Regions from separate parts of the Homo sapiens genome. Here regions 1, 2 and 3 are each linked to region 4. The links come from fine-mapping of genetic effects on plasma protein levels. A gene starts in region 4. Each other region holds a variant in brackets. All regions are shown on one strand. Distances are from middle to middle. Region 1 overlaps C1S (complement C1s). Region 2 overlaps CLSTN3 (calsyntenin 3). Region 3 overlaps C1RL-AS1 (C1RL antisense RNA 1). Region 4 holds the start of CLSTN3 (calsyntenin 3).

Evidence for each region. PIP is the posterior inclusion probability: the model's chance that the variant is causal. The UK Biobank Pharma Proteomics Project read protein levels with antibody pairs (Olink). The fine-mapping took linkage between variants from a reference panel, not from the people measured, so its PIPs are less certain.
Region 1: its variant is fine-mapped to the plasma level of the CLSTN3 protein (UK Biobank, PIP above 0.99).
Region 2: its variant is fine-mapped to the plasma level of the CLSTN3 protein (UK Biobank, PIP 0.97).
Region 3: its variant is fine-mapped to the plasma level of the CLSTN3 protein (UK Biobank, PIP above 0.99).

Annotation. Positions count from the first base shown.
Region 1 is chr12:7,067,823-7,075,913 of GRCh38, reverse strand. It overlaps C1S (complement C1s), which reads right to left. Exons shown (of 12, transcript NM_001734.5): 11 at 7,384-7,458; 12 at 4,882-6,059. The coding sequence ends at 5,263. Among named protein-coding and RNA genes, the nearest start is that of C1S, 11 kb to the right of the region's middle. The variant C/T (reference allele first, on the strand shown) is at 4,520.
Region 2 is chr12:7,154,381-7,162,479 of GRCh38, reverse strand. CLSTN3 (calsyntenin 3) reads right to left here. Exons shown (of 18, transcript NM_014718.4): 17 at 4,789-4,991; 18 at 3,535-4,539. The coding sequence ends at 4,399. Among named protein-coding and RNA genes, the nearest start is that of CLSTN3, 28 kb to the right of the region's middle. The variant A/TCCCA (reference allele first, on the strand shown) is at 3,193.
Region 3 is chr12:7,111,927-7,120,025 of GRCh38, reverse strand. C1RL-AS1 (C1RL antisense RNA 1) reads right to left here. Exons shown (of 12, transcript NR_026947.1): 6 at 7,962-8,019; 7 at 4,807-4,896; 8 at 1,349-4,640; 9 at 1,000-1,127; 10 at 473-526. It also overlaps a transcript of RBP5 not described here and the pseudogene RNU6-485P. Among named protein-coding and RNA genes, the nearest start is that of C1RL, 6.8 kb to the right of the region's middle. RefSeq lists an enhancer at 6,258-6,759. The variant G/A (reference allele first, on the strand shown) is at 4,769.
Region 4 is chr12:7,125,852-7,133,950 of GRCh38, reverse strand. CLSTN3 (calsyntenin 3) reads right to left here and starts at 3,580. Exons shown (of 18, transcript NM_014718.4): 1 at 3,239-3,580; 2 at 805-927; 3 at 183-378. The coding sequence starts at 3,302. RBP5 (retinol binding protein 5) reads left to right here and starts at 5,062. Exons shown (of 4, transcript NM_031491.4): 1 at 5,062-5,248; 2 at 5,533-5,711. The coding sequence starts at 5,176. RefSeq lists silencers at 2,564-2,633, 3,724-3,823 and an enhancer at 2,781-3,282.

The DNA.
Region 1 (8,091 bases), 58 kb after region 4:
GTGGGATTGAGAATGGATTAGGGAATTTTGATTGCCTGGGAGCATGAAGGGTTCATTTGAGATTCATGGCCAACAGTTAAAAGGGAGACAGTTGTTCTTTTGTGAGACATTCTCACCTTTTTTGAGACAGTTGTGTGAGCTTGTGTGTTTTCCCCTAGCCACTAGCAGCCGTACCATTCAGGCACACAGGAAGCAGGGTTTTATTACGTCAAGTGAGCATATTGAAACCAAAGAAGAGCCAGATGTGGTGGCTCATCCCTACAATCCCATCACTTTGGGAGACCATGGAGAGAAGATTGCTTGAGGCCAAGAGTTCAAGACCAGCCTGGGCAACATAGCGAGACCCTGTCTCTACAAAAAAATTAAAAATTAGCCAGGTGTGGTAGTGCATGACTGTAGTCTCAGTGTCTCAGGAGGCTGAGGTGGGAGGACTCCTTAAACCCAGGAGTTTGGGGCTACAGTAAGCTGTCATTATGCCACTGTACTCCAGCGTGGGCAACAGAGTGCGACCCCGTCTAAAAGAAAGAGAGAGAGAGAGAGAGGAAGGAACAGAAGGAGGGAGGGAAGAAGGGAAGGGAAGGAAGGAAGGAAGGAAAATAACAGGCATGCAGGAAAAAAAAATCATATTTTCAGAGGATAGATGATGACAGTGAGGACAACACAGGACACCAAAACGGAGGCAAGCCACCAAGGACCGGGAAAAGAGACCTGAAAGGCTTAGGGCCACTTAAGGCAAACTCGAGACAACTTCGTAAATTGCTGGAAAAAAATTCTACATAAATTGTATCACAATTATGTGGCAGAGCAGGTAAAGTTCATCTAGGTCCAACCTAGGTGTTCAGTGTTTTCCAAAACCTCTCCTCGGGGGTCTCTGTCAAGCCTTTTGGGGTCAGCCCTGCCCCACACAACCGGCCTCTGCTTGGCCCTATGAGAAGGCCAAATTCTCCCTTTTAGGTCTTCTTCAGTCCTACTCAGATCTGACACACTCACCTGCAGTGGCCCCAGGATTCTTCTCTGCTGTCCTGACTTCTCCCCCAACTAGGTGCTCAGGTGCTTTTTTTGCTTTCATCCCTGCTTCCGTGCATTTTTATTCTGTGAATTTTTATTTCTGTGATTTTTTTTTTTTTGAGACAGAGGCTCGCTCTGTCACGCAGGCTGGAGTGCGGTGGCGTGATCTAGGCTCACTGCAACCTCTGCCTCCCAGGTTCAAATGATTCTTCTGCCTCAGCTTGCTGAATAGCTGGGACTACAGGTGCCCGCCATGACGCCCGGCTAATTTTGTATTTTTAGTAGAGACGGGGTTTCACCGTGTTAGCCAAGATGATCTCAATCTCCCGACCTCATGATCCGCCCGCCTCGGCCTCCCAAAGTGCTGGGATTATAGGCATGAGCCATAGCGCCCGGCCCTATTTCTGTGGATTTTTATTCTAGCCATCCTCTTTTATTTTTTCTGTTAAAAACCTTAAGTTCTTCTTGCTTTCTGTCTAAGAGAGATCAAGAAACATTTTCATTTTATCCATGAATAGGCAGATGCCCAGAAAAACCTGAGCATATTATGCCAAAAATATTTCACACTCAGTCCTTAAGCAATGAAGACAAAAGAAATGATTTGTTTCCACATTAAACCTAAAGGGAGATAGATACACAATGCAAACAGCCCATTTGGAGATGAGGCAGAACACAATGGTTACAATCAGAATGAGCTCCTTCCTGGCAGCTGCAGGTCTTCTGTGTTCTTTGTAGTCCCTTATAGAGGAAGAGAGATTTTTTTTAAAACAGATGCTTCCATTCAGGAAACTAGGTCCATCAGAGACTTTCCCTGTAGGTTTTGCTCTGGGGGGGGGGGGTTCCCCCGTTGTGGTTCCTGTTACCACAACTTCATCTCCCTCAATATGTCCAGTCTCTGCTTTTCTCTGGTTCAAGGGTGGACATACCCAAAATCAATTTCCTCTTAGGACAAATGAGAGAAGCTGGATCTTTCCAATGTGTCTTTTTATGATTGTAAGAGAAAATAAAAAAGGATGTGAGTACAAAACGTAGCAAGAGGGAAATCTTGGTAGTGATGGAATTGTTTCGTATCTTGACTGCAGAGGTGCTCACATGAGTCTCCAATGTAGTAAAATAACACAAAACTGCCCTTGCACATTGTACCAACATGAGTTTCCTGGTTTAGATATTGTACTGTAGTTACCTAAGATGTAGCCATTAGGGGAAATAGCGCCTCTCTGTACTAACTTTGCAACTTCTTGTGAATATGTCAAAAGAAAAAGGGTTTTGTTAAATCATTATTTTAAAAACCATGGCAGAGTTTGTGGATCTGATCAAGATTAAATAAAGCTGTGTTGTGTCCGTGTGTGTGTGTGTGTGTGTGTGTGTGTGTGTGTGTGTGTGTGTGAGACGGAATCTCACTCTGCTGCCCAGGCTGGAATGCAGTGGTGCCATCTCGGCTCACTGCAATACCAGGTTCAAGCGATTCTCCTGCCTCAGCCTCCCGAGTAGCTGGGATTACAAGCACCTGCCACCACACCTGGCTAATTTTTGTATTTTTAGTAGAGACAAGGTTTCACTGTGTTGGTCAGGCTGCTCTCAAACTCCTGACCTCATGTGATCCATCCTCCCTGGCCTCCCAAAGTGCTGGGATTACAGGTGTGAGTCACCACGCCTCACATCATATTTTCAATTTTTAAAATAATAACCAATATGCAGGAAAAAAGTCACATTTCCACTGAATATGTTTCTGATTCTAGCAGTCACTGTAAAGGAAACTTTAGAGTCCCAGGATCCCTTCTAGCCCCTTCTGGGCTGGTCCAGTTTCAAGTAGGTTCAAGCCCTCTTGACCACCGGACATTGTCTTTCCTCCCTGGCATGAGTTGCTGACCCACCAGTCCATTTTCTTCTGACCAAAGAAAAGTGACAATTCACCTTCTTCAAAAAGCTAACTCTTTTCCTGAGTTTCAGATGAAGCGGACATATGTTCCCAAGTAACTTGCAAGGTACTACGATGGATACCCTTTAAACACAATGAATGACTTTCTAGCCCCTCTAGGACCTGATGACAAGCTCTTCCCAGCTCTGAAGTCTCTGATCATGATTCATTTAGGTCTTCTCCCTGCCATTCACCCAGAGAAATGACCTTGCAGCACAGTCAACGATGCAAAGCCCATTCCCGTCATGCCGTACAAGGTGGCAGCAAAGAGGGAAATTCTTCACCAATACCTCAGCCCATCAGCAAGGGCAGAACCCAAATAGACTGGTGATTCTCCGAGAGGGATGAACTTCCTTTTTCTGTTACTTGTCAGATTCCAGGTTAATTTTTTGCTATTGCCCCAAGTATAAAAAAAGAAGAACAATATCCCTTTCACAGACCATGTTTCTAAATCTTAATATTCCTCCAATGCCTTTTTATCTCTAGAAGAATCCTCCTCTCACGGAAACACTCTCACCCAGGGCACACTGTCAACTCCATTGCTCCTGCAATGACAGGAAGGGTGAGGAGGTGGCTATGAGGCATACAGTTCAGGAGTGACACAGTGACTTTATGCTGCTTGGTTGACCATATAATCCTCCCAGGGACTCCCTGTTGTAATTCCCTTCAATTCTTCAGGCCCTTCAATTAGAGTTCCTCTGGTTACCTCATCACGTTTACCCTGCGGTCTAAGGTCAACTGTTGAATTTAGCCCTCTTGGTCTATGGAATATCAAAGTCCATTCTTGATGGGCCCAAACCAACCTTTTTTGGCTTCTAGTAAAAACTGCCCTCCTGAAAGCCACGTGTCACATCAAATAGGTCAGATTCCCCCTCAGCTCTTCCTCTCAGACCTCCGCTTTCCTAAGACGCCCTGTTAGGGCAACCGCTGTCCTAAGATAGTTGTCCTGTCCTCAGTTTTTAAAATGCTAAGTCTCTATTCTGTAGTCATTTCTCATCACTAATCATTCTTTTGGAAGAGGAATCTTTTCTTTTCCTTCCCCTAGAAAATAGAAGGGAGAGTTTTGGGGTCCATCCTTACCGAGATTTTCTGCTATGTCATCTTGGTACAGAGTTCAGTCTAATGAAAACATTGTCACAAATTGATTAAAACCACCAGGAAAGCAGACAAGAGCATGCTCAATTTCTTTAGTTTTTCTTTTTTGTTGTCATAATATTGCATGATACAATGAGTATTAGAGGAAAATTAACTTTCCGTTCACATATTGAAACAATTTCTACTTAAAGAAGATCTTAAACAGCCAACTCAAACTATTGTACATGGATTTCTGAATGAGGTGGGGTTTTTTTATTTTGCTTTGTTCCAGATAATGTCTCACTCTGGTTGCCCAGGCTGGAGTACAGTGGCATGATCACTGCAACCTTGACCTCCTGGGCTCAAGCGATCCTCCCAACTCAGCCTCCTGAGTAGCTGGGACTAAGGCACGCACCATCATGCCTAGCTAATTTTTATTTTTTATTTTTGTAGAGACAGGGTCTCCCTATGTTGCTCACACTGGTCTTGAATCCCTGGGCTCAAGCAATCCTCCCACCC[C/T]TGCCTCCCAAAGTGTTGGGATCACAGGTGTGAGCCACGCACCACATGACATTTAATGAGCTTCTTTTTTTTCTTATTTTTCTTTTCTTCTTTTTTTTTTTTTTTTTTTTTTGGCCAGGTAAATATTAATGAGTTTCAAAAGCAGAATGTGATGCCTTACACTGGCGATCTTCATACTAACCCACAATATTCAGTAAATCTCATTTGGAAGAGAGAAGAAAAGCTGAATTCCCTGTTTTCGTGACAATTAAATTAAATATTAGTTGCTGGATGCCCAATTTCAGTGACATAACAGCCTTCTCATCCCATTCCCCTTCTATAATTCTGAGGGTTTGGTGTGGAATGAGGTAAGTCACACAAAATTTGCTTATAAACATCCTTTATTGTACATAGACAGTGGATACTGAGAATGATCAAGTAAATGGAATTTTGAACAGGTAAAGAGGAAACAAAGAATTAAGGTATCCCTGTGGAATAGTGCAAGAAAGGAGTGCCCCACCCATAGTGTTATCTACAATAGGTACTCCGGGGAAAGGACCCCAAGGAGTCAGACCACAAATGTATGACCAGCACAATTCTATGATCAAACTCTACCTCTAGCAAGGCGTCTCAACAATCAAGTTCTATTTAAATCATTCGCTCGTGTCTTCTTTCAGTCATGATGAAATAATGAGAATATCATAAGGAACAGAAGGTAATGCATTGGTCACCACCCTTGGAGAGGCTGGTGGGATGTATCTGGATTAGTCCTCACGGGGGGTGCTATTTTCCTGCATAGTCTTCATTATCCAGTCAACATAGTTCTTTACCCGTGTGTAGAGCCCATAGGTCCCACACTGGGGCCCCCAGGACACCAGGCCAGCTGCGTAGAATTTGGTCTTGTCATTGGGATCCTGTACAGCAAAGGCCCCACCACTGTCCCCTTTACAGCTATCCATGCCCTTCTCTCCTCCAGCACAGATCATGTTAGGAGTGAAAACATAGGCCTCTGCATCTGCTGTGGGTTTCTCCACTTTCACTTCTTTGCATTTTCTTAAAGGAGCTACAGGTAACCTTGCCGCCTTGAGGCGAACAGCACGATCTCTCTTCTCTGTTCGGCCCCAGCCTGAGATCAGTCCCAGGTCCCCATCCATGAGGTTGTAGTCGGAAGAGGTGCCTGGTAGGCAGATGGGAGAGACGGTGGGTCCCATTTTCACTGGGTCTTTCAGCCGCACCAGTGCAATGTCATTATCAAAATTGGTTCGTCCTTCTGGGACTTCCAGCAGCTTCCATCCCGGATGAATAAACACATGCTCAGGAGTGAGCATCTTGGATTTTGCCAGCCGTGAGGTCTGCACTGAGGTGGACCCAACATACATTGTTGGCTCCCTGTTTCCCTCCACAACATGAGCAGCCGTCAGCACCCAGTACTCATTAATGAGCGCTCCACCAGCCCATGGGTTGTCAAAGAAGACTTGCCAGGGGAAGTTTTTAATATCTGCATCGGATCCTCCAATTATCCTCTGTTTTTCTTCAAAGGGTTCTCTGGGGACTCCACAGACTAGGAAGGAATAAAACAACACAGGGAAGGAGGAAGAAATGATGCTGGCTTCCTGCAAATCCTCCAACCACTCACATAATGTTACCTGCTAGGTTGCAGGATTCTCTAGTACAAAATAGTCAACCCTATTTGGTCAACAATCTCAATACCTGACCCACTCTGGCCTTACCTAAACATCCCGCTTTGCCGATGTCATAAGCTGGCTCATGGGAGAGCTCAGTTAAACGGAGGCAGTGTGTGAATCACTGAGTCCAGATGCACTAATGCCTCACACTATCCACAGTGCGACCCACAGCCCCCCTGGAGGCAGGGGTCCCCTTTGCACCTCCCAACTCGGCACATGAGGCCGGTGCCCAATCAAGAGCCAGTGCTGGAAACCCTTTTCTCACACAGATGGTGGAGGAGGAAAGATTTCTGCCTTCTTCAGATGCCCAGATCAAACTTTAATCACCTTCTTTACTGGAGTCCTAGTTGCACCTGAGTCCCTCCTAGTAAACCACAGGTCAGCCTAGGAAGTAGAGAGGGGTCCCTTCTTTGGCCCTGACCTCTCACTCCCAGTGACTGGTGCCATTACCATTCAGTTATACTAATAACTGAATTCAAGTGAAGCTGCTTACTTAAATCCCTTACTAGACAGCCTGGAGGGACTCCAAGTTGAGCACAATGGGCTGTGAACTTAGACAGACCTGGGCTCAAAGCCTGCCTTTGCCACTTGCTAACTCTGTGAACTTGCACCCCACCCATTCACATTTGACATTGGTCAGATAAGACCAATGACACCTAGCTCACAGGGCTGTTATACGGACACGAATGAGATAATAAATGCAACAAATCAGCTCAGTCTTCAGCTTTCAGTACCACCCAGGATGGTTATTATCCTATTGGATTTGCCTCAGCCTTCTGCTACCCAACTCTTATCTTCCTCATTCTTTGAATTCCTCTATATCTTGCTGCCCTATAAACTTTTAATATAATAACTAGGCTATTTAGCTAGACTTGTTTCTGAGTGTTGATTACTCACACACTCTCAGCTTTCAGGCCCTGTTTTTAGCAGTTCTGTATCTTCTCACTGCAGCTACATTACCAGACACCAACTGTCGCTGGCTGACGTTTCTATTTCCTTCCAGTTGGCCTGGCTTCAGTGCGGCTGAGGAGGTTCCCCACGGCCCTGGCAGCCCACGGCACAGTGATACTGCCACCTCACTGAGCTGGACTCTGGCAGGTCACTGTTCAGTCCTTTCCCAAGAGGATTACAGTTGCTTTCAGAAGGTGACTCCCAGTCACCCATGGCTATCATCTCTCCCCAAGCCTCAGCCCTCCTTACCTGGAACACATTTCGGCAGCTCCGGGCCCAGCACCTCATTCACCCAGCTCCCGTTACCAGCACAGTGATACTCCCCTGGAATAGCACAGAGAACACAGGCCACACTCACCACCACATCTTCCTTCTTCCATTCCCCCCTCCGACCCCAACACCCTGCCCCGTTCCTTCAGAACCTCAGCTCGTCTAGGATTCAAGTAGTAAATCAGATTAAATCAGCCAGAAAAAAAATATCTTCCTCCAAACAATCCCTCAGGCCTCTAGCCTGCCAGGGAGACAAAGGGAACATCTCCAAAGCAGAAGGAAAGAAGGCATCGGGAAAGTGGCGAAATAAATACAGAGCAATGCAGAGAACGTATTAGGGTCTCATTCAGCCCTGCACCTAGCATGACCAAAGCCTCTACATCAAGAAAGCCAGTCAGTGTAGTTTGGTGGCTTAAAGCTGAAGGCATTGCTCCTGTGGGTTTTACATGAAATAACTGGTCAAAAGGTGGGTAATCCCATGAAATGGATGTTGTAGGGGAATTCCTGCTGCAGCTGTGAACTCAGTTGGTGACCTCTATGATTCCCTGAGGCTGATGCTCCCCTGAACTTGCCCTGCTCCAGATGAAAACTGTATCTTTGGACGAAGCCAAGGGGATGAACAATGTCTGTCCTATCGCCTTCATTTGTCTCCAAACTCTGTCTCTGGCACAGATTATGCTATCCACC
Region 2 (8,099 bases), 29 kb before region 4:
CAGCCCAAAGGCTGCAGGGTGGAGTGCAGACTTTGAAAGTGGGTAGAGCCACACCTCTGCCCACCGCCAGTGCATTTGTGTCCAGCTGCTCTGACGGCACAAAAGCGAGTTTCCAGGACTCTGGTTTGGTAACAGGAAGAAGGACACACTTTGTTCTTGAACTGGTGGTTAACCCAGTTGCCTCTAGAGCATCGCTTTTCCCCGAGGGCATGCTTTTCATCATGCACCTTTAGAGAAGCTAATTAATTGTCATTGCGGAGAGTAGACTTGAGAGGAAAACAGCCTTCCATTGCAGAAAGAACGGTTTGAGTGATGCCAAGGCAAATGTGTTTGCTGTTTCAAATGAAATTGGGAATAGGTGAATTGGAAACCCTGCCCCGGGCCTGATAGCCCCAGGCTTTGCCAGCTTCTTTGAGGGAGGTTAGGAAACATCTTTCCAGGAGATCTTGAGCAACAAAATAAAAACCCATGCAGAATCCTGCCTGCTGCCCTTTCCCTGCGTCACTGGAGCTGGCCTCCTGCCTCAAGCCTGATCCCTGTTTAGTGTGTGTGCGAGTGTGTGTGTCAGAGACAGGCAGAGATTGAGAGAGGGAGGGAAGTCAGCGAGTGACAGCAGAAGTTCAGGGCATGTGGTGGCACAAGGAATTCATGGTCTTCCCCAGGCCTCTGGTGCCCATGTATACCCCCACCCCAGGTAACATCTCGATGGGCCCAGTAGTCACATGGGGAGATGTGCTAACCATGGGCCAAGACTTGGGCATCAAACACTGAGGGTGAAGAGGAGGGCCGGGAAAGGTTACACCAGAAGAAATAATCAGAGGTGAGGGCTTCTGATTCTGGAGAGTTTCCAGGAATCTCAGGTAGAGTGGTTGCATTTAAGAGAAAAACCCATGTCCAGCCCCAGAGGCAGCTGATCCAGGAAGGCCAAGAGTCAGGCCGAGGCTGGGCAGACACTAAGAGAAGGACATATGCTACTTTGTGGCAGTCTGCAGGGGCGTGTGCATCAAGAGGGAAGCAGAGTTCATGGCAAGCTTGCCTTCTTACCCACAGCCCCTATCCCTGAGACTTGAGCTAGAAGTGAATAAGGACCCCCGAGCCTCAAGTGTCAAGGACACACACAAAAATAATAGAACCTGCTTGGCTTCTGCTCCTCTTCATGGGAAGCTGCATCTCCGAGACAGGGTAGGTGAGGACTAAGACGATGACAAGAAGGAGGAGGGGGCTGAACTTCACCCACTGAAATTCAGGACCACAAACTATTAATAAAAACTCTCAAGCCCCTTTGAGAGCCAAAGCTCTCAGATGTCTGAAGTCTGTGACCTTTTGAGCCTCTGGAAGACTCTAGGTAGACAGGCAAGGCGGTCTCCTATGCAGTATTGCCTCAGACCCCAGAACATCAGCTTGGCATCTAGGCAGACCTAGACTACAGGAGAGGCCACTACAGGGCGTCTGCTTGGCCATGCTCAGCCTTGGACCTCCCATGCCATGGGCCACCAACGGAGCTCTCCTCTCTCTTCCTACCAGTGAGTCTTCCCTGAGTCTGAGAGCCATACACATCACCTCAGTCACCACTGACTGAGCCCCTACTGTGTGCCAGGCCCTGTGCAAGTTGCTGGGGATACAGAGAATCTGTGGAGAGACAGACATGTCCCTCAGCTTTGTAGTCAATACCATCATGGAGGCGTGAATAAGGGCTCCCAGAGCACAGCAGAACTCCTGGTAGAGGCAACTCTTGAACCGGGTCTTCAGTGATAGTAGAAGACTGCCAGGCACACAATGGGTAAGGGACATGCCAGGCAGAGGGAACAGTACATGCAGACACAGAGGCGAGAAAGCAGGGTGTGTGTGGGAAGCATATGTGATTTCTGTGACCCCACCGCAGGGGTGCAGGGGTGGTGGCCGCAAAGAGGCCAGAGAAGGAGGAAGGCAGGACCTGCCCCACCTGGTTAAGGGGCTAAGGCGTCAGGACTTGACCTAGGCCTGACAAGGAGGTAGGAAAGTTGCTCTACCGGAGAGTGGTCCAACCAGAGTTGCACTTGAGAAAGGCCACTGAGATCCAGAGTTGAGGACGGGGTGGAGTAGAGCAAGGCATAGGAGACGAGGACAGGTGGAAGGCAGGTGCGAGGCAGGTGGGAGGCAGGTGGGAGGCAGGTGGGAGGACAGGTGGGAGGCAGGTGGGAGGAGAGGTGGGAGGCAGGTGGGAGGCAGGCGGGAGGACAGGTGGGAGGCAGGTGGGAGGAGAGGTGGGAGGACAGGTGGGAGGACAGGTGGGAGGCAGGTGGGAGGCAGGTGGGAGGCTCTTGCCACAGACCAGGCAAAAACACAGAGGGTACAGGTCAAGGCGGCGGCAGCAATAAGGGGAATAGAAAGCAAAAGACCTATTGGAGAGATTTTTAAGGGGTAAGAACGACAGGGTTTCATCACCATTTGGCCATGGGGTTGAGGGAGAGGGAGGAATCTAGACTGACTCTCAGATTTCTGGCATAGGCGAATGGGTGAAAGGTGATAGGGATAGGTCACAGAGAAGTCGGGGAAAGGTGGAGTCTGAGGCACAGGAAGGGCAGGTGGATATGCCAATAGGTAGTTGCAAATGTGAGTTAGGAGAGAGATTCAGGTGGGAGATAAAAATATGGAGGCATCAACATGCAACTGGGAGTTTGCGGCCATGGGCAAGGACAAGGCACCCGGTGGATGTCAGAACGGGCGTCAGGCGGAGCACCCACCTCCACCCCAACTGTGCTACAGGCAGCCGCAGAGAACCAGGAAGAGCCTAAGGATGCCCTACTCTGTCATGCTGCAGGAAGGAACTAAGACTTGGATCCCTGGTATTTCTTGGGCCAGGACAGCACCAGAGGGATGCTCCCACCAGCAGTTCACTCTTCTGAAATAACCCCTTGGGGTTATCATCCTTTATCACCTGGGGCTTAAGTAAGACCTGGGTCAGAGAACTAGTGGCCCAAAAGGCTGCAGAAGGGCCAGACTCTGCCTGCTGTCAGGCCAGGGGCTGGGCCCGAGTGGAGAGGGCGGAGGCCACTAAGCAGCCATGTGAGGCAGCCACAAGGACATGGGCAAGGCAGGCAGACATCCCCTGGGTCTGAGCCTTGGCTAGCAGGAAAGGGTCAGCCTGGGAACAGTCTCCAGATCCCTTTGGTACAAACAGCAGGGTTGCCTGCCTTCTCCCTGGGGCCGCCC[A/TCCCA]GCAGGGAGCCCATGTGCACAGGCAAAATGTTCCAAGTTGTGGGGCGGGGTTGGCAGCACCCCTGCAAGGCACTGGGCATCTGCCCAGGTGTCCATAGCATTCCCTGAATCTTCTGTACTTTTCCAGGGGGTGCTGAAGGAAGGGAGGCGTGGGAACCATCTGCCCCCAGCTTACTTTCCAGGTGATCTGGCATCCTGGGGACTTACCTGGTCAGGCCCCCAAGATCACCAGCCCTGCCCACCTCACTTCAGCTCTGTGCAGAGACCCAAACAGCCCCTGAGGCCCCAGAGCCTCCACCACACCCACACAGGACCAGGCAGTCAGGAGGCGCCTCACAGAGCTTTTTTTTTTTTTCTGATTGTTTTATTTGAAAACCCTAGGATATGTCCCCTCCCTCACCACACCCAACCCCCCGCCCCTGCCCCAGGACATGACGATGCCTCACACACACACACACACACACATACACACAAGGCCGTGAGCTGCACGCAGGAACATGGGCTGCACTCACGACAACATTGAAAAAATATACATTATATATGTACACCCGGGGCCCCCACGTCCCCTCCCGTCCCCGCAGCCTGGCCACACCAGGTCACGGAGGAGGGGCCGGGGCTGCAGGACCTCAGGACTGCAAGGGCAGGAAGGGAAACAGGACAAGAAAGGAAGGAAGTTGGAAAGGAGGGAGAAATGGGGTCCCCAGACTGAAATGGAAATGAGGTGGGGCGATCATAAGAGAAGCAGGGACGATGGTCCAGCTGAGGGAGCCCTGCAGAGGGGGAAAAGCTTCCCATGGACAGGAGAGAGAAGGGAAGGGGAGAGGAGAGGGTTTCCTTCAATCCCACCCCCAGCCCCAGCCCCAGCCATTGCAATCGTCACCCTCTCCCCAACACAGTGAGTGCTAAGGGGGCAGCTGCCATTGGGGGTAGAAAGGCAGCTGAAGTCCAGCCCACTTTCCAACCCAGCCAGCCCCAGTGCAAGGGGCACACCAGGAGCATGACAGCCCAGAAGTGAGGGATGGGGGGCCGGGGGAGGGGCAGGGCGGACTCCAGAGGGCCCGCTGGGGTTTTGAAATGAAAGGAGGACTGGTTCTGAAGCCTCTCTCCCTCTTGGTCTCTGTGTTCCCAGAAAGTCCTTCTCCCATGTCTGGAGTGTCTGTTTCACCAGGGCAGAATTCCCCCTCTGCGTGGGGAGAGGTGTAGGCCTTAGTAGCGGTGTGGGGGGGTCTCGATGATGCGTCTCTCGTCGCTGCTGGGGGAATCGGCCACCTCCGAGTCACTGCTGTCCTCATCCTCCTGCTGGCCCCCAACAGCCCCCGTCACACAGGACTGCCGATTCTGGTAGGACTGGAGGGCAGGAACAGAGAGGAGAAGGGATCAATGGCCTGCACACATCCCAGCCTCTCTTTCAGGGACCACACTTCCCTCGGTCCCCTTAACCCCTGTGTACCCCCTTCCCTGCCTGAACCTCTCTCCCTCCGGCTCACTGCAGCTCTGCGAACAGCCTCCACCCAGGCCTGCCCCTCCTCAGGAGTCCTCACCGTGTGTGCTCCACAGTCTTGACCCTACAGAACCCCGCTTCCCCAGGCCTCTCACCTCCATGGGGTTCACAATGATGGTGAGAGCTGAGTCATCCCAGAAGAGGTCTGGGTCCTTGGGGTCACTGGAGGCCCCTGGAGGCCCGCCGGCCCCTGAGACGCGGCGGTGAAGGGAATGGATGCGCACCAGGCCCAGGACGACCATGAGCACCAGGAAGCCCACGCACACCACAATGATGAGGGTTGCGGCGCTGGGTATCACTGCAGAGAGAGCGCGGGGGTGAGCAGAGCGTGACTAGGCACACCTGGGGGCACTTGGACAGGGGGCTGGGTAGGAAAAGAGGCAGCCCGGGCTGAAGGACTCCCAGGGCAGAACACACGGTGGCCGAGAAGAGAGGAACACCTGGAGAAGCCAGAAGAGAAACAGCCCACCAGGAAGGGCAGGAGACGAAAGGGGAGGAAGGGAGCTGCTGCAAGGCAAAGGAACAAACACAGAGGGAGGCAGGTGTACAGAGAGGCAAGGGCAGAGGAGGAAAAAGACTCCCTGCCCAACACTGTCATGAACAGCCCTATTCGCAGAGGACAGAGGGCAAGGACTGGAATCTGCCCCTGTCATTCCACCTGTGCCTTCCCCAGAGACCACTCAGCCTAGGAAAGAGGTGCCAGTGCCCAGTGAGGGAGAGGAGGGGCCCCCACACGGGCTTGGCTGAGCAGGAGGAGATGCAGGCTCCAGGCCTGGGCTGGCTGCAGGAAGAGGGCACTAGCACCTGAGGCTGGGGACAAGTCCAAGGGGCACAGAGCAGCCCCTTCCCTTACCCACCTGGACTGAGCTCACTCCGTGACACCTCCCTTCTCCTGGTGGGCTTGGGGCTCCGGGACGTCTGGGGTTCCTGCTTCCCCAACATCTCCCCCTGAGGCATACCTGCCTCCCCCGTGGCTCTCCCATGCTTCTGGCCCTGCAGCCCCACTTTGATGCCCAGGCTCAGAGGGGCATGGACCTTCAAGGGCACTGAGACACAGAACGGTGCGTTCACTCTCACACGGACCTTAGAGCTGATGGCGGCAAAGCAGATGTGCATGCACAGGTACATGCTCAGGAAGACCGTGTGGGCACACAGCTGCACAAAGGTTGCCACGCCCCACACCCGAGCCAGGCCTTTGCCAGCCTGCATGCTGGCCCACACCAGCCACCTGGCCGCCTGCTCACACTGCGGGAGTAAAGGAACGCGTCTGGGGGTCTCCAGCAAGGCACGGTAGAGCCATATGTGCAGCATCACCCAGCTCCCCACCAGCTGGGCAGACCAGGCAACCCCCTGAAGGAAGACATAGACACTACAGACGTGGGCCGTGAGGGCCACAGAGCGAGCCGCCATGAGCACAGCCCTGCCTGCCTCCTGCACACACACACACAGCTCTCGAAGAAGCACAAGGAAGAAAAGCAGGAAAGCCCGCAGCCCCAGGGACAGCAGGTGGAGGCAGAGACCCCACACACGCACCTCCAGGCCCAGGGCCCTTACGGGCAGCTGGGTCACTACTCCCCACATGGGTGCACACCCCTGCCCACCATGCATACACAGCAGCTCCTCCCTGGGCGGTCCCGTTGCTGAGGGACTATTCCATGTATGTGTGCCCCAAACACACACAGAGACCAGCAGTCACACAAGCAAGCCCCTAGAAAAATACACACATCGCATTCCAGCCCCGTCCGCAAATTACCTACAGCCTGAGACTCATGTGTCAACAGACAGAGCAGAGCGTAGGGAAGCGCATGGCCCAGGAGCTCCTCACACTCACACCCACACCCTGCTGCAGCGCCCCTCTCCCCAGCAGCCAGCACACTCAGCTGCCACGCACTCCAGGGCCAACTAGGTGTGTGGAGAATGCCCTGCCTGGGCAGGCCACACACCTCCCTGAGGCCACCCTGATGGCTGTCTGCCAAGTTGGTCCCCATCCTGACCCACAGCCCACTTGAGGCCACCAGCCAATTAGAACGGACTCTGCTGGGGCACACTCCCTCGACACTGGTTCCAAGGTGAAGACAGGACTGGCTGGATCAGTATTTCTCAACTTCCTGGGAACGGGGGATAAGGGAGGAGGGGACAGAGCTGTCTCTCCTGCCCATCTGCAGGAAATAGTGTCTCTCAGGTCTCCACGTCAACAGACCAGAGCCAGGGGCAGTGCCTTCACTGGCAGATGGGCCCAGTGGCTAAGCCCAGGCTCCAGAAGGGGTGGTGACCCCACCCTCAGAGTGGAGGCCAAAGCAGGTGAACTTCCTCTAAGCACACAACGATGACGAGCTAAAGCTGGTTTGCGCCCTAATCAATGCAGTGTCCCTCCGAGCTCCTGGCCTAATGAAGGAAATGACAAGTTGATTGCCAGGACAATAAGAAATGACCACAGGAAAGACAAAATGCAGACACTCTATCTACAAGCAAACAAGTCTGGTTAATTAGTTTAAGATGAGTCAGGAGCCCGGGGAGATGGGAGGATTTTTAAATCAGCTACAGATAAAAATCAAGAATTTAAGAAGTGCGTTCAGCTTTTCTTGCTACATGAGATCTGAGCAGTTAATTCTGGCCTTGAATGACCTCCAGAGCCAACATTAAGGGGTGACTTAGCAAATGGTCCATGGGATTGCGAGGACAGTGGAAAGCCCTGTCCATGGCCCCACACGGTGCTCTCTTTGCAAAGAGCCTTGGGAGAGATTTCTTTCTGCCCCCCGCACTCCCAGGGCTTTTCATGAAATAGCGTTTGGCTCCTATCACGGCTCTCAGAACTGCTCAGGTTTCCTTTTGCTTTAGCTTTGAAGAAGCTCAGGGTCAAAATTCTGGCCCGTGGTAGCAACTGCATAGCATCTCATAGTACGCATGTTATGAGCTGACTTTATTCCCTGGCTTCATTGGATCCTTATTTCATCATTACCTGTTCCTCCTTACTTCCTCATTCATTTTCTTTTTGTCCTATTGCTTTGTAACTCTTTCTGCAAAGCTTCAGATACTTGTAGGAAACAAAAGAGGAAAATTATTCCCAAACTTTTAAAGATTACATGGGATTTTTAAAAACCACTGACACGTGGCTCCCACCCCCTAGACATTCTAGGGTATAATTTAGGTGCCGAGAGTTTTTAAAGCTCCCCAGGTGATTCTGGCAGTCATCAAAATTTGATATGAGTAGATACATAATACCCTCATCATCCGGCTTGCTCTTCTCAACCAACCTTATTCTCTCTAACCATAAACACTCTTAACCACCTATCTACCCCCGGTTCTCAAATTCCCATTCTCTCTCACACCCATCCAAAAATCCCTTTTACAGTTCAGGTCCAAATGCAAACTCTACATGTGCCACAAAATCTCCCCTGACTGTTCC
Region 3 (8,099 bases), 14 kb after region 4:
GCCCAAGCAGAAGGTCACCAGCATAGCCAGGCCATTGGGTTCATGGACAAATCACTTGCCTCAGAGGCTCTAGAGGAACCTAAAATGCCACCCAAAATTGGGAGGCAGTGCTGCATAGTGGCCAGGCATGAAATGCCACCTATTACTAGCTGCAGGAGTATATACAAATCGCCAGCCTTCAGCAGATGAGCCACATTGGCCAGCCCACAAGGCAACACCAAGAGTATTTCCTTCCTGCTGGGAATTTTGTGAAGATTGCATGCACACTCAGCAGAGGACCTGGAGTGGAGTGCGCCCTGACAGATGCTGGCTATCATTACTTGCACTATTCCCTGCCTCTTCACCTGATGATTGAAATTCTCTTAACTAGAAGCAAAGCCTTGTGTTCTTCAGTTAAGGACAAGGCATCAAGTGCCACTACCCTTGAGGTTACACAGTGACATATTTACACCGAAGTGTAAGTGACACATACCAGAGAATGGGGGCTAGTGTAGCCATCATCTTGCTGTCCAGGCAGGTAAACCATCTGGGGGTGACAAGGATGAAGGGGAGTTGCCTCCCTAAGGGATCCATATCCAGAGTCTCTCATTGCACCCCACCCCCCATCCCCAGAGAAGGGTGCCTGGGCTCCCCGGGACAGCATTGCCCTCCAGAGCCCCTGCTGCAATAGCCACTCTAGCCTTCCCACCCATGGAGAGAAGGCTTCAATGCAGGAGAAAAGGGATGACGCAGGGACAGCTGCCCAGCCCAGTGCCACTGCAGTGATGGCTGCACAGTCATCAGCTCCATCCACCCCTACCCCCCAGCCCTTGGGACCCCCCCCCATCCCCCACAGTACGTACTGCTATCTCATTCAAGGTGCCGGGCACCAGCAGCAGAGGCCACATCCCAGACCTGGACTCCCCAGCCACCAGCTGCAGGTACTGCCACTCTCCCTTAACCCTCCCAGCTACTCCCCTCCTCCCTATGACAGCTGAATACAGGAACCAGCGCCCTCACCCTGCCCTGGAGCTTCCTCATGCTTCCCTCTTCTTGAGAGGCCTCCACCCTCCTGGCCCTGGTCTCCTGCAGGATATCTCACCATCTTTCTTCTTCCTCCTCCTCCTCCTCCTCTTCTTCTTCTTCTTCTAAAATGATTTTTAAAAACACTTCATGAATTTGCATATCATCCTTGCACAGGGGCCATGCTAATCTCTTCTGTATCCTTCCAATTTGAGTATATGTGCTGCTGAAGCGAGCATATCCCATCGCCTTTCTACACCAGCAGAGCTCCAGCTTCCCCTCCATTCATGCCTCAGTATGTGCCCACACCCCTGCCCTACAGATGAGTCATAGATGGAGGGTCTACCTCAATGTGAATGGAACAGTTTTTCTTCCACGCAAGTGTGCATATCCCACACGATTCTGTCTTGCATGCACTTCTTCAATGTACGGTGCGTGTGCCTATTGTCGTGTGGCCTCTCCATCCTCTGTTCTATAGAACTGCTGAGAGCCAGCATCTTCCTTTCCCTCTCTGTACACAGAACAACAGCGGTGGCATCTTCCTTGACCCAGGCAGGTGGCACAATGCAGAGCTAAAGGCACCGCTCGAGGAGTCGTGTAACCTCAGGCGAATTCTTTCACTTCTGTGTGCCTGTGCTCCCTCCCAGGCCTGGTCCCGATCCACCTTCTGTCTTGTCTTTCCCACCTGCTCCTCCTCTTGGATTCCTCTCCCTTCCCGGCTGTTTTCGGAAGAGGCTCGCTCATATCCTTGACCCAGCTGTAAGGAAACTATTGTCACCCTTAATGAAACTAAAGCTTATCCTGCTGGGTCCTCATTGGAGCAAGAACCCACAGGTGAAGGGGCAGCCAGGTGGCAAAGCCCCCACCCCAGCCTGTCTCCCCACCACTCCTTCTTTTCTGAGAAGCACAGGTGGGACAAGGTGGGCCTCTTGAATGAGGGTTTATTAAAGTCTTGGAGGAAACAAAAGGGAAACAGAACAGAGAGTTATACTCACCTTGATTATCTGAGGCACAAATGCAGCCTCAGCCATGAACATATTGAAGGAAGGGATAGTCCAGTATGTAACAGACGCACCCTGCTATTGGCAAGCAAAGCACAGATGGAGTGAATTTAAAGAGTCCTTTACTAAAGGACTTTGTTTCAGGACGAAAGTCCACACAGAGCCCACAGGGTGTGGGAGATCTGAGATCTGGAACTGGGATCTCTGGGCTCTGAACTTGTTCTGTTGGGCAATCTGCTGATGGAGACCTTGTCTTCGAGTGTCAGGATGCACACTGTGGTCAGCTCCCCCTAGGTTGCAAAGGGCATTCTATCTGGGACTTGTCTTCCCTGCCCATCTGCTCTCCTTTTCAACAGCTTCTTGGTTCTTTTGAAACCTATGCTGTCTTCCCAAAGCCCTACCTCCTATTGTGTTGGCCTCCTGTAAGCCATGCTTTCATCTGTCCAGTCCTGCTCTTGGTGGGATGAACGAGAGGCCTCTACAGATCTCAAGGTGGAGGAGGAGAGGGTCAGAGCCCCCAAAGGTACTCTGGATTTGGGTAAATGCACCTGAAATACAACCATACCCAGCAAAAATAACATCCTGCTAGCTGATCGTCTGCACTTATTGTACTAAAATAATACATCTACTTCTATGAGAACCAGCGTCCGAGACAGCCACCAACAATACCTGCTTCCCAGTATTCCTGTCCTTGTGATGTCTCCTTCCACATCGGGTTGTCTGTGTGACCAATGGAATAAGGCAGAAATGATGCTACGTCACTTCCAAGGCTGGCTTATAAAAGACACTGTCACCTCTGCCTTGTTCTTTCCACCTTGGGTCACTCTGGGGAAAGCCAGCTGCTATGCCGCGAGGACACTCAAGCGTCCTATGAGGAGGGCCATGTGGCAGGGAACTGAGGCCGCCTGCCCACATCCATGTGAGTGACCGTCTGGAAGCAGACCTCCAGCCCCAGTCCCGCCTCTGGAGGACTGCAGCCTGCACCTGGACCAAAGCCTTGTGAGAGACCCTGATCCTAAACTACCCATCTCAGCCGCTTCTGGATTCCTGACCCACAGAAACTGTGTGAAATAGTACATACTTGCTGTTTTAAACAAAATGTGGGGGTGACTTTTTACAAGCAGACAGATAACTGCAACATAGTCTCAACCTTGAATTTCATTGCAAATGACCCCATCCTGACCATAACCTCAATATTCGCTAAGTGGGCAGAAGAATGGGGTTGGGGGGTGGGGGCAGTAGATGACTTCGGGCAGTAAAAATGTGTCCAGTCACAAAAAGGCATGACTCCATCCTCAGTGCTCACAGCCCTCCCATCCTAGCTCTAAGCTAGACCCTTCCACGAGTCTAGAGAGTGAAGTTCAGAGGCAGGCAGCTGCCCCCTTTCCCTTCCTCTTTGAGGCCCACCCACCTGAGTCCTGTCTGAGGACTGCCTCTCCCCTAGGTAATTGTTAAAAGGAATGTCCAGCATCTTCAGATGGTACCCTGCTCGTTTCAAAGTTGTGTGACCTTACTCTGTGGCTTCAAAAGGACAAAGACATCAGAATACAACTCAATGCACCTCACGCCATTAGACAGCATGAGTGACAAGCCGCAGGGAGGATATATCAGACAGCACCAGATCTTAGCTGGTAGGAAGCTGATTGACAAGTTCTGTGGAGGACAGAGCAGCAGAGCCCTGAAGTCCACAGCAATAAGGGGAAGATGGTGTTCTAGACACACCAGCAGGGAAGAGCCAAACCTGGATGGTCAGTTTGACCTCCCAGGGTAAGGAGCCTCTGGGTCTTCTCTACCTCTCCCAGGACCACCACAGTGAAACTAGAGCCAGAGGGTTCTTTGCTGAAAAGAGGGTGAGTGAGGTGGAGAGATGCAGATGAGAGGAGGCTTTATGCAGAAGCCATCAGGTTGTGCCATATCTAAAGCCTGGAAAAAGGAGGATACCAGCTGATAGGATTTGGCTCTATGTCCCCAACCAAATCTCATGTGGAATTGTAATCCCCACGTGTTGGAGGAGGGGCCTGGTGAGAGGTGATTGGATCATGGGGGCAGTTTCTAATGGTTTAGTGCCATCCCCCTAGTGCTGTCTCCCGATGGAATTCTCATGAGATCTGGTTGTTTAAAAGTGTGTAGACTTCTCCCTTCTTCTCTTTCTCCTGCTGCCATGTGAAGAAGGTCCTTGCTTCCCCTTCGCCTTCTGCCATGATTATAAGCTTCCTGAGGCCTCCCAGTCATGCTTCCTGTTAAGCCCGCAGAACTGTGAGTCAATTAAACTTCTTCTCTTCATGAATTCCCCAGTCTCAGGTAGTTCTGTACAGCAGTGTGAGAATGGACGAATACAGCAGCGAAGGTGGTACAAGGGCTTTCTGTTCCACTGTGCTCTTCCTGAGTCAGAACCTTTGGGCAGTCCCCAGCCTGCCACCTAGGGACTTCTGCTGCCACCCAGGAGAAGCAGAATGCCCACCAGGCCCAGATCTGCTACCACTTCCAGAAGCCCTGTTACTAAATGATAGGCCCCAGGTGAGGACCAGCCAGGCCCTCTCCAGGGCAGGATCCTTCTCCTTCTACTCACAGAGCTGCTCTCTACAACCAGGTACCAACAGTGAGGAGGCGGTCACGTGGCAATGATCAGGCTTCTCACTAGAGAATAGTAAATGGGGCAGGGCCGTGTTCAGACCCTCAAACTCTACCCAACCCCATCTCCCAGATGCACCTGTCTACCACCTGCTTCTCTTCCTCCCTGCACACCTTGAAAACTCCAAAACCTG[G/A]TGCATACTCCCCACTCTGCCCCATCCCAAGAACTCACCCACAGACGCAGGTGGACACCTAGATGTGCTGAGTCCTAGGGCTGCCACAGCCTGCAGGACAAAATTCCTCCCTCAAGGAACCCACAGCCCTGTGGGAAAGACAGACACACGGGCAGGAGGTTATCATGCATCAAGAGTCCATGAGCACAGGGAAAGTCATTTTCTCTGAGTCAAAGAGGGCTTCCCAGAGGAGAGGACACGGGGAGAGAGGTGAGTAAAAATGGCCGGCATCCAGGGCATGAGTACTACATGCCGAACGCTGACTCTTCTCAGGAACCCAAGCACAGGTTATTGTCCCCATTCTACAGATAAGAAAACTAAGGAACAGAGAATTTTAAGTAATTTGCCAAAGGTTATACATGAAATAAAAGACAGAGATGGGATTTGAACCCAAACAGATTGGAGCCTGACCACCCAACCCTCAGTTTCTCCACCTCGCCCCTATTGACGTTCAGGACCAGGTAACATTTTGTTGTGGGACCTGCTGCCTTGTGCACTAGGATGCTTACCAGCATCACTGGCCTGTATCCACTAAATGCCAGTAATGGAAAAAAGAAATCTCTAGATATCATCAAATATCCCCTGGGGAGCAAAACTGCTCCTTGTTGAGTACCACTGATCTAACCATTTTGCTATTCTATTCTGCTTCCTAAGCAAGTAATGATATTTATTGTTTGCCAAATGACAGACACTGCCCTAAGCAATTCTGGTTATTAACTCATTTAACCCTCACACCAACCCTCTGGTGTGGGTACCGTTGTCCTCATCCTTGTTCTTCAGATGAGGATGTTAAGAGGCACAGAGAAATTATGTAAGCTGGCCTTGGTCACCAAACTTTTAAATGGTAGAGCCTGGGTTTAAACCTGGTGAGTGTGGCACACAAGCCCACTCCTTTAAGCAGCATGTTATGCTGATGACTGAAGAACACGGCATTGGTCGGGGAGTCACACATGCAAACGCAAGGCATGTTTGTGAAGCCATAGCATCATGACCGCGCCTGGAACACACATGCGAGGCGGCAGCGGTGGAGAGCGAAGCCAGAAAGTCATGCAGAGCCTGATTATGAAGGAAGAACCTGACGAGACAAACAAGTGGCTGGGGCTTCATCTCATGGATCAGGAGGCACAGTCATTGAAAAGTTTTAACCTGGGAAGGGGCACGATTGATTGAGATTTTAGATACTGGCAGAGTAGGGAGGATGGGCTTAAGGGCTAAACCTAGTGGCTGACACTCCATTGGGGTTGAGCTAGCGACTGCCTAGGTGTCCATAAGGCATGGAAGTCAAGGCCCTGACATGAAAGCCTGAGATAACTTGGGGGTGGAGGAGTGTGACCCATTAGGGTCACCCCTCTGCCCTGGGCTGTCCACATCTCCACTGGCCATGCCAGACAGAAGCAAAGGGTCCCAGTCTGGCTGACTCAGCCGCCTCATCACCCCTGCTGCTCTTCACCTCGCTCCTGTATCTCCCTCCTCACCTGGCACTGGGCACAAAAGCCCCCACGTGTCCCAGCCCAGGGCAAGGTATCTAGAGATAAGACAGGGAAGCTGTGGACAGAAATGGCTCGTGCTGCCCCAGACTCCTCTGCCTGGGCTCTCCTGTGGCTGTTTGGATTCCAGGAGAGGGCAAGCTCCTCTCTAAATGCTGGGGGCTCATGAAGGCTGCAGAGAAACTCCCTGGCCAGGAAGCCCCAAGGCACTTTCTGTTGTCCTGCCCTTCCCCTTTCAGGACAGAAGGGGGCAGCACCAACACGATTTTCAAAAATAAAACCAAAAATAAAGTCACTGGAGCACCCCAACCTTGTTTGCCCAGCTAAGATTGGAAAGACCCATGCCTGGCCTAAGTTTATATGCAAGGACAAAAACTTCTTCATTAATCATGTGGATTAAAGATGCCGATTAAAGGATCCATCCCCTCATTCTCTAATCCTGTCTGGCTCAGAAAGGACCATCTGGTCACAATTATAATTTCAGATACATTTATTTTGTAACTATCAAAGTTATTAAATAATATTAAAGAAGTTTTACTAAACAGAGAAACATGGTTTAAATCATCCACAACCCCATACTCTAATAGGAAGCAGTTATTTTAGATTTTTCTCACGGGTGCTTTCTATATTTGTAAACATAGTATCCTTACAATTTGGTAGCTTGCTACCTTTACTTAGCATGCCAGGAATCCCAGCTCCCTTACCTGCACTTGGGGGCCTTAACATAGAGCAGAGGTGGCCTATGCTCTTTAGGGACACTTGGGTAAGGGAAAGGGAACTGAAGTAAATGATTGAAGTGTTAGCAATAAGGTGACCAACTGTCCTGGCGTGTCGGGGAACTTAACTGGTTTTAGTGTTGAAAACCTCATGTCCTAGGAAAACCTCATTTCTAGACAGACCAGGATGATTTCTAATAGGTTACCCTATTAGAAAAAAGTCCCCCCAAATTCAGACATCCATTTTCATTTCTACATCGGCCTTTCAGCTATACTTCTTTGCTTTTTTCTACTAGTAGTCACCCTAGGGCAACTGTTCTCAAACTTTATACCCTTAAAAAATTATTGAGAACTCCAGAGAGCTTTGGCTTATGTAGGGTATATCTATTAATAGTCACTGTACTAGAAATCAAAATTGAGAACATTTTAAATCACAAAGATACACAAGCACGCATCCCGCTCACTGCCACGGATGAATCATTGCACATCACGTAGCCTCTGTAAATCCACCATATACCATGACAGAATGAGAGGGAAAAAAGCAAAGAACATCTGAGTATTTTTATGAAAGTCATTTTGTTACCTCACAGACCCCGTGAAAGGATCTTAGGGCCTGTGGGTCTTCCCACACCACAGGGTGGAGACCCGCTGCTCTGGGAATTAGTCTGCATCCTAAACTCCAGTTTTCTCAGTTCCTATTGTACCACTTCATGTGAAATGAAGGAAACTTGTAACCATGAGTCCACCCCCTTGTCCTCTATACCAGCAGTCCCCACCCTTTTTGGCACAAGGGACTGGCTTCATGGAAAACGGTTTTTCCACAAACCAGGGATGGGGCCAGAGGGAGATGGTTTCAGGATAGTTCAAACACATTACATTCATTGCATGTTTTCTTTCTATTATTATTGTTATTGTAATATATAATGAAATATTAATAATTATACAACTCACCGTAATGTAGAATCAGTGGGAGCCCTGAGCTTGTTTTCTTGCAACTAGACGGTCCCATCTAGGGGTGATAGGAGACAGTGACAGGTCACCAGGCATTAGATTCTCATAAGGAGCACACAGCCTAGATCCCTCCATGCA
Region 4 (8,099 bases):
TCTGTCACCTTGCCTGAAAGTCCCTAAATCCTAGGAACAGCAGGGGATGGGGCTCCCTAAGTCCTAGGAACAGCAGCGGGTGGGGGTGGATATTCGATGACCGCACGGACAGAGGATGGTGGGCTTGGGAGCAGGGAGGAGGACCCTGCAACACATGGGGCAGGAGACAAGGACTTCCTCACTTGTGGGACTTCTTGGTGTTGGCCCCGTCGGGGCCCTCGCCACAGTCATAGGCCTGGATGGTGAAGGTGTGTTCCTTCTGGGCCTCGCAGTCCACAGGCTCCTTGGCCCGGATCAGCCCCTCTCCTGTCGCCTTGTCAAGGATCACAGCCTCAAAGGGCACCCCAGACCCATGGAGCCGGAAGCCGCAGATCTCACCTGGCAAAGGGGAGAAGGGGAGGAGTGAGGCTGCTGTGTCTCCTTCCCCACCCTCAGTCTCCCCACCTGGGGTCCAGCTCCACCTCTCCTCCCAAAGCCCTGTCCCTTCTCCTGTAGGCACAAAAGCATTAATGATCAAACACGCAACTCTAAGCCCAGCTTCCCTGAGCAGCAACCTCCCAGAGCCTCCAGACCTGAGATCTGACAAAATCATGATGTGTTTAACCCTTGCCTGGCCATGTCCTTTTCTGGCATCCTTGACTCAATCTCCATTCTTCAGTGGAGACCATTCCCCTCCTTGAGCCCACTTTTATCTTCCCTTACTTTCTCATCACTCCCAGGACCTTCCCTCCCTCCCTTGCTCTTGGCCCTCCCACCCACTTTTCTCTGTCCTACCCTGCCTTGCCATCCCCCAATCCCAATTACCTGCATAGCGCAGCGGGGCATCCTTGTCCAAGGCAAAGAGTGGTGGATTCAGTAGGACCGTGTTGTCATTCTCCATGACGATGCCCTGGTACTCTGCCTCAATCCATGGCTTGTGCTTGTTGGCTGGCCCCACCCCAGGGAGAGGAGAGGAAGCACCTGTGAGCAGGGCCTCTACTCCCACAACAACCCTTGTTGACCCAGACAACTCACACCCCAGCACCATCACCTTTTCCACCCCCTATAGGAGCACCTTACAGGAGGCGGGTGGTTGAGGACAAGAAATCAGCTACTAAAGGAGTCAGAGGGTCTGCGGGAGGTCATAGCCTTCTCCTATAGCAGGGTAGACAGTTCCCATGGAAACAACCTGCCCTGGGGGTGAAGAGGAGGGGATCACTATCTCCATGGGAACCATGGTCAGGAAGTGGAGAATGTTCTTTAGCGATTTCACGTGCTAGAGAATGGAGACAGGGAACTTCAGGGAGCAGTGGTGGGCTGTGAGAAGGCCCTGGGAAAGGGAAGGGATAGATTAAGGGCAGAATTGAAACTAGAAAAAGATCTAGAAGTTTCCTGAGATCCTGATTGCTTATCCTCCTCCCAACTCATTTCAGTCCTGATCCCTTCACTCTGCACTTCTCCCAGCCAAGCCCCAACTTGAGGCCACTCTCCCAGAACACAGGATGGGGAGAAAGGAGAGAAGTGAAGATATATAGGACAGAGGGAGGGGGCAGAGAGGGGCAGGAATGGAGCAGAGGAATCAATGCTGAGCAACTGGACCCAGCAGAGCCGTCATCCTAAGGGATTATCGGGCTGGCCTAGAAACATGACAAATCCCGTCCCTGCTTCCCACCCCCACACCCAAGAGAACACATTCGAAACCGACACATTTCTATGTCCTCCACAAGACCATCAAACCACATTCCCTGAAACCCACTTTTTATACAGAACTCAATCCCAGTTCTTATCTACCCCATCCCTCTTCCCTTCAACCACCAGCCAATTCAGAATGGATGCGGGACTCATCAGACTCCAAATCTCCCCATCTTCTACCAGATTCAGCCTGGTGAGGGGCTGTGGGGAAGCATATTTCCTCCCCTTCCACATCACCCCCCACCCCAGCCTCCACGCTTGCTCTAATCCCATCATCATGCCAACACCCAGGCTCCCAAAGCACAATCATGAGGCAGAGGGAAACTGAGTCACCAAAAGGAACCTCATCCCCAGTATCTCACGGTGAGCAAGAAACCCTGATTTCCATTCTTTCCTCCAACCACACACCAGCAAGCCTTTGGCATGGGAAGGCTTTCTTACTGATGACCACCATAACCCCTTCCTGAATGCTGAGGAGAAAGCCACAAGATGGTGCACAGGAGGCGGTACAGGAAGTGGCAGGAGGCTAGGAGGCGAGGCTGAGGTCAGAGATGCAGGCAAGGAAGAGAGAGCGGTGGAAGGGCAGGGCTGGGCGCCCTCTGCACAGCTCCCCCTCCCACCCTGCTTGTCTTCCCAGGTCTCTGAGCCTCTGTCTCCTCTCCTCCTGGCCCCCTGCGGTCTCTGCGTTTGCTCCCTTTCACTCCTAGGCTCCCGGGCTCCTCCTTGACTCACTCTTTTCCTGATTTTCCTCATTCCTCCCTCTTTTTTCTGCCTCCACCTTTACCCTTTTCCATCCCCTCCTTACCCCCTCCCACGCCTCATCTCCGGTCTTCTCCTTCTCAGCTTTCCCTCTCATACTCATTTAGCGCCCCCCACACACCCACTTCTGCCCTTTCCTGCCAGTCTCCATCCGTTTCCACCTACCTGAGCCCTCTGCCCGCAAGCCCTCCCTCCCGTCCTCCCTCTCCGTCTGTCCGACAGCCCCGCCCAGCTGAATGTATCCGCTGTCTGCCAGAGAGGGCAGCTCTGGTAACCCACAGCCCAGCTGATGCAGGCAAAAGGGTCTGAATGCAGAGGCACACGCAAAAAACATACGTGCTCCGAATTGCTGAACTGCAGCAAATACTTTCTCCCCAGGATGGGATGGAGGCGAAGCAGATGGATCTGCCACACACCCTTAGCATGCGCCAGTGAAAGGGAGAGCCGCGGGGAGAGGCCTATCACCGGCTCGGGGGCAGTCCTTCCCAGACCCGAGGTAGCCACCAGCGTGTAGAAATTAGGGGAAGGGGAGAATAGAGACCCCAGGACGGGAATGGAGACCAAATGGGAGCAAGATGACCAGCAAGAGAAACGCATGGGTAGAGATGGACCAGAAAGGAAGATGTAGCTGGGGGAAGAGAAAGAGAGGAGACGGAGCAGGTCTGAGAACGGATGGGAAGGAGGGTGATCAGAAGAGGGCCAGACACCTGTCAGGTGCCAGGGAGCCTCGACACCTCCTTCCCACCCCCACCCCGCACGGCGCTGCCCGACGCCCCTCTTTCGGTACCCCCACCCCCACCTCACTCACCTTTGTTACAGGAGCAGGACGCGAGCAGAGAGGCCAGCAGAAGGGGCAGCAGCAGGAGGGTCATGGTGCGGCGTGGGGCAGGGCAGGGCCAGGCGTTTGCCTCCCCTGGGAGCCTCCAGCCTGCGGATTCCACCTTGCGGGAGGGATACAGGGGGTCTCCAAGGAGCGGGGTACAGCAGGGCAGGGACGGAAAGGAGCCTGCCGCCCACACTAGTCCATAAAGCGGGCCTGGGCAGATCCCAATCTGGGTAGCTGAGGCGGTGGACTTGCAGCGGCTTCCCGTTTCCCCCAGCCCAGCGTCCTCACTCTCTCACTCCCACCCCAACCCCGCTACTGCAGGATGACGTCAGCACAGCCGGGCAACGATTGATGGGGCCGCCGGCCAATCAGGTGACTGGGAGGGGGGGGGACCAGGTGCTGCAGCGGGGGAGGGAGCCAATGAGACTGGGGCGTCGGGGCTGGAGAGTTTCAAGGCTCCTTCCCCTGGCTGCAATTTTGGGGGAGCCGAGGAACTGCGGGGGCTGGGGAGGAAGCTGGAGAGCCACGGAGGGGGTGGGAAAGAAGAGGGACGTGGGGAGAAAGAAGCCAGAAGCCAGGGGGTGGGGAAGAGAGACGTCAGCGGGACCTGAGGGCGGCCAGGAGGGGTGGCACCGCGTCACCCCGCCCCCCAACTCTGCCATAACCTGTTTCCACAGCCCCTTCCATCCACAGATCCGTGCTGCGTGCCCTCTGGGAAGGGTGAAGTAAAACCCTCAGTCTGAGCCTGAGAAATCCTGGCATTTGTAGCCCAGGGCTGCGAGGAAGCCACAGGGCGGTCCGCAGGGCGGTATCGAGGCTCTGGGACCCAAGGAGGGGCAGGACGTCGTGCACCCCTCGCGCACGCACCTGTCGGGACCGGCCGCCTCCTCCTGCCTACCTGTCCTGCCTCCTTCGCCCCGAATTTCACCTTAAACCATGATGAACCAAGCCCAGTGGATTCTGAAGCCCGGGACGATGGCAGGTTCGAGAGAGAATTGGGCAGCTGGGGGCGGGGCACAATATTATTTAGGCGCCTCCACCCCACCTTCACAGAAATACATCTGGAAAGCATGGGCTGTCCTAGGGCTGGGGACTGGGGGTTACGGTCTCATCGATGACTCAGAGGGAGAGAAAACCCCCTGGGTCCCAAGCCAAAAAGAATAAAATTCTCCAGAATAGCCAACAAACTCCTCTCAGGCTGTCTGTTCCGGACTTTGAACTCAGCACCCCTCGGGCTCCACCTCCCTCCTAATGGCTCTTTAGGACCAAGAGTCTGGAATGCCACTTTGGGGTCCCAGTTGAGCACACTACCTGAGGGAGCTCTGAGAGCCAGGCCTACAGGGTGCTCTTCATGGTGGCAGCTGGCCATCCTCACCCCCTCCCCTCACATCTTCCAACATCACTCAGTCCCAGGATCTCAGGATATTGTTGGAACTCATCTCCACCTCACACAGCCAGACCAGCCTCAGGTGTCTCCCAGGAAAGACTGCCCCTCAGGCCCTGGGACGGTTCCCAAGCCTGCCAGAAATGAGGTGGAGGCCAACACTGACCTTTGGATGGCTGAGTTTTGGATGACTGACAGCCCCAGATCCTGCTCCAGGTTCCTTCCTCAGGAAGGATCCTGCTCCAGGTTCCTTCCTCAGGAAAAGCCAAGGTCAGGCGCAACTTTGCCAAATCCCTGCCCCTCCTTCAGGCTGGAGACACCACCCCCAAACTCACCATGCGGGGAGGGAAGAAGTCTGGTAGGGACTCTTATTGCAACAGGGCCCCAGCCTTATAAAAAGCCCTGGTAACCCGGCCATTACACATCCTGTCTCTGTGTGTGGAGCTGGCTGGAATCTCTCAGCCTCACCTGCCAGACAACACCCCCTCCTTCCTCACCCTGTCTCCTGCATTCTCCTGAAACCTTCATCCACACAATGCCTCCCAACCTCACTGGCTACTACCGCTTTGTCTCGCAGAAGAACATGGAGGACTACCTGCAAGCCCTAAGTAATGGCCTCGCCCTCCCAGACCCCTGTCACTCCCTTTCTCCCCTCTTCCTTCCTGCTTCTTGGTCCCATGGAGAAGAGGGAATGCCCGGGGTTGGACACTGTGGAAAGGCTCAGGCGGCTGGCACCAGACCTGGGATCCATTTCTAACCAGGCATTGGTAGGAGGGGGTGAATCCACAGTCCCAGACCCAAAGAAGGGAAACTCACAGCCCTGAGGGGCTGCTGCAGGCAGAGGAGCTCCTGGCTGGCTAGCAGCACCCCTACTAACAGGCAGCCCCCACAGACATCAGCTTGGCTGTGCGGAAGATCGCGCTGCTGCTGAAGCCGGACAAGGAGATCGAACACCAGGGCAACCACATGACGGTGAGGACGCTCAGCACCTTCCGAAACTACACTGTGCAGTTTGATGTGGGAGTGGAGTTTGAGGAGGACCTCAGGAGCGTGGACGGACGAAAATGCCAGGTACATTTCCCCTGGCTGGGCGGTGGCCGGAAGGAGGCATCACAGGAGACTCCTAACAACATGGGGCAAAACAAAGTGACCTTCCCCAGCCAGAGCAGCGGGGAGGAGGGGAATGGTCACCACAGCAGGGAATGCAGTCCCCAGGATACCAGTCTCCAGAACTAACAGGTCCTGGTGCTCCCTGTCTCTCTCCCACTTCTTCCCTGCCCCCTCTTATCACCAGCCCAAAGGGCAAAGAACAGGCCAACCCAGACCGAAGAGCAAACATTTGCCCACCCTCCAGCCTGTGACACTGTTGGTCACCCAGAGTCCCTTTTACTTTAGCATCAATAACTTCACTCTCCTGCATTTCTTTCTACTTCTTACATATTCCTTCTTAGCCTCCTTTGCAGATCCTAGTCCTCCTATTAATCCTTTAAACTGGAGTTTTCTCCGCAGAGTTTTGTTCTTAATGTCTTCTCCCTTTTGTCTGCCCACTATCCATAGGCTAAATCATCTACACCCATGCCTTCTGCTTCCATCTATAGGCTGCCCTTGGCATGAATTCTCCAGCCAGAGCCATCTCCTGAGCTCCAGGGCAATGTTTTCAACTGCCTACAAAATACAGTTGGCCCTCCATATTCATGGGTTCTGCATCCACAGCTTCAGCAAACTGCAAATGGAAAAATATTTGGGAAAAATAAAAATAAAAAATAACAATACAAAATGATACAAATAAAAAACAATACAGTATAGCAACTATTTACAGAGCATGTACATTGCATTAGGTATTATAAGTAATCTAGAGATGATTTAAAGCATATGGGAAAAGGCTGGGCGTGGTGGCTCACACCCATAATCCCAAGACTTTGGGAGGCTGAGGCAGGCAGATCACTTGAGGCCAGGAGTTCAAGACCAGCCTGGCCAACATGGTGAAACCTCATCTCTACTAAAAATACATAAATTAGGCCAGGTGCAGTGGCTCACACCTGTAATCCCAGTACTTTGGGAGGCCAAGGCGGGCGGATCACCTGAGGTCAAGAGTTCGAGACCAGCCTGACCAACATGGAGAAACCCCATCTCTACTAAAAATACAAAAAATTAGGCAGGCATGGTGGCGCATGCCTGTAATCCCAGCTACTCAGGAGGCTGAGGCAGAAGAATCACTTGAACCTGGGAGGCAGAGGTTGCAGTGAGCCAAGATCGCACCACTGCACTCCAGCCTGGGCAACAAGAGCGAAATTCTATCTCAAAAAAAAAAAAAAAAAAAAATACAAAAGTACAAAAATTAGCCGGGCATGGTGGCGCATGCCTGTAATCCCAGCTACTTGGGAGGCTGAGGCAGGAGAATTACTTGAACCCGGGAGCCAGAGGTTGCAGTGAGCCAAGATCATGCCATTGCATTCTAGTCTGGGTGACAGAGCAAGACTCTGTATCAAAATGATAATAATAAAGTACACAGGGGGATGTATGTAGTTTCTCTACAGATACTAAGCCATTTTATTCAGCAGATTTAGTGAGGTGGGGGTCCTGGAACCAATTTCCATTTGAATGCCAAGGTCAAATTCAAATTCACTGTCTTCCTATCCAAACCTACCCCACTTTTATATCTACTCTCTCCACTAATGGCAATAACCAGCCAGGCCAGAGACCTGGGAGTCATGGTCAATATCTCTTGTTTCCTTACCTCTAGGCTCCCAGCACACACACACACACACACACACACACACACACACACACACACACACACCACCACCACCACCACCACCACATCTAATCGGCCAAGAAATCTTTGTAGCTTTTCTGCATTACCCAGTATAGCAGCTGCTAACTTCAGATGGCCGTTGAATACTTGAAATATAACTAGTCCAAATCTAGATGCTGTAAGTGGACTTTCAGACAATGCCAAATAAAAAGAAGCATTTCGGAAATGTTTATATTGGCTGCATGCCGAAATAATAATATTTTGAATATTTTTGGTTAACTAAAATATATTATTTAAATTAATTTCCCCTATTTCTCTTTACTTTTCTAATATGGCTCCTGACCCATTTTATTTCTGTTGAGCATCACTCTTCTAAATGGCTCTCCTGTGTTCCCTCCTAACCTTTCTCTATCACCACCCTAATTCAGGCCTTCATTTCCTGGTGCCTGAAATTGCTTTTTTGTGTTTTTGTGTTTTTTTTTTTTTGGTAGAGGTGGGGTCTCACTGTGTTGCCCAGGCTGGTCTCAAACTCTTGACTTCAAGTGATTCTCCCGCCTCAGCCTCCCAAATGCTGAGATTACGGGCCTAAGCCACTGCACCCAGCTGGTTCTCACGCTTAACCCTCCTCTAATCTGCATGCTGTAGCCACAGGGTCTACTTAAAACATAAATGTGATCATGTCACTCTCTGACTTACACCCTTTC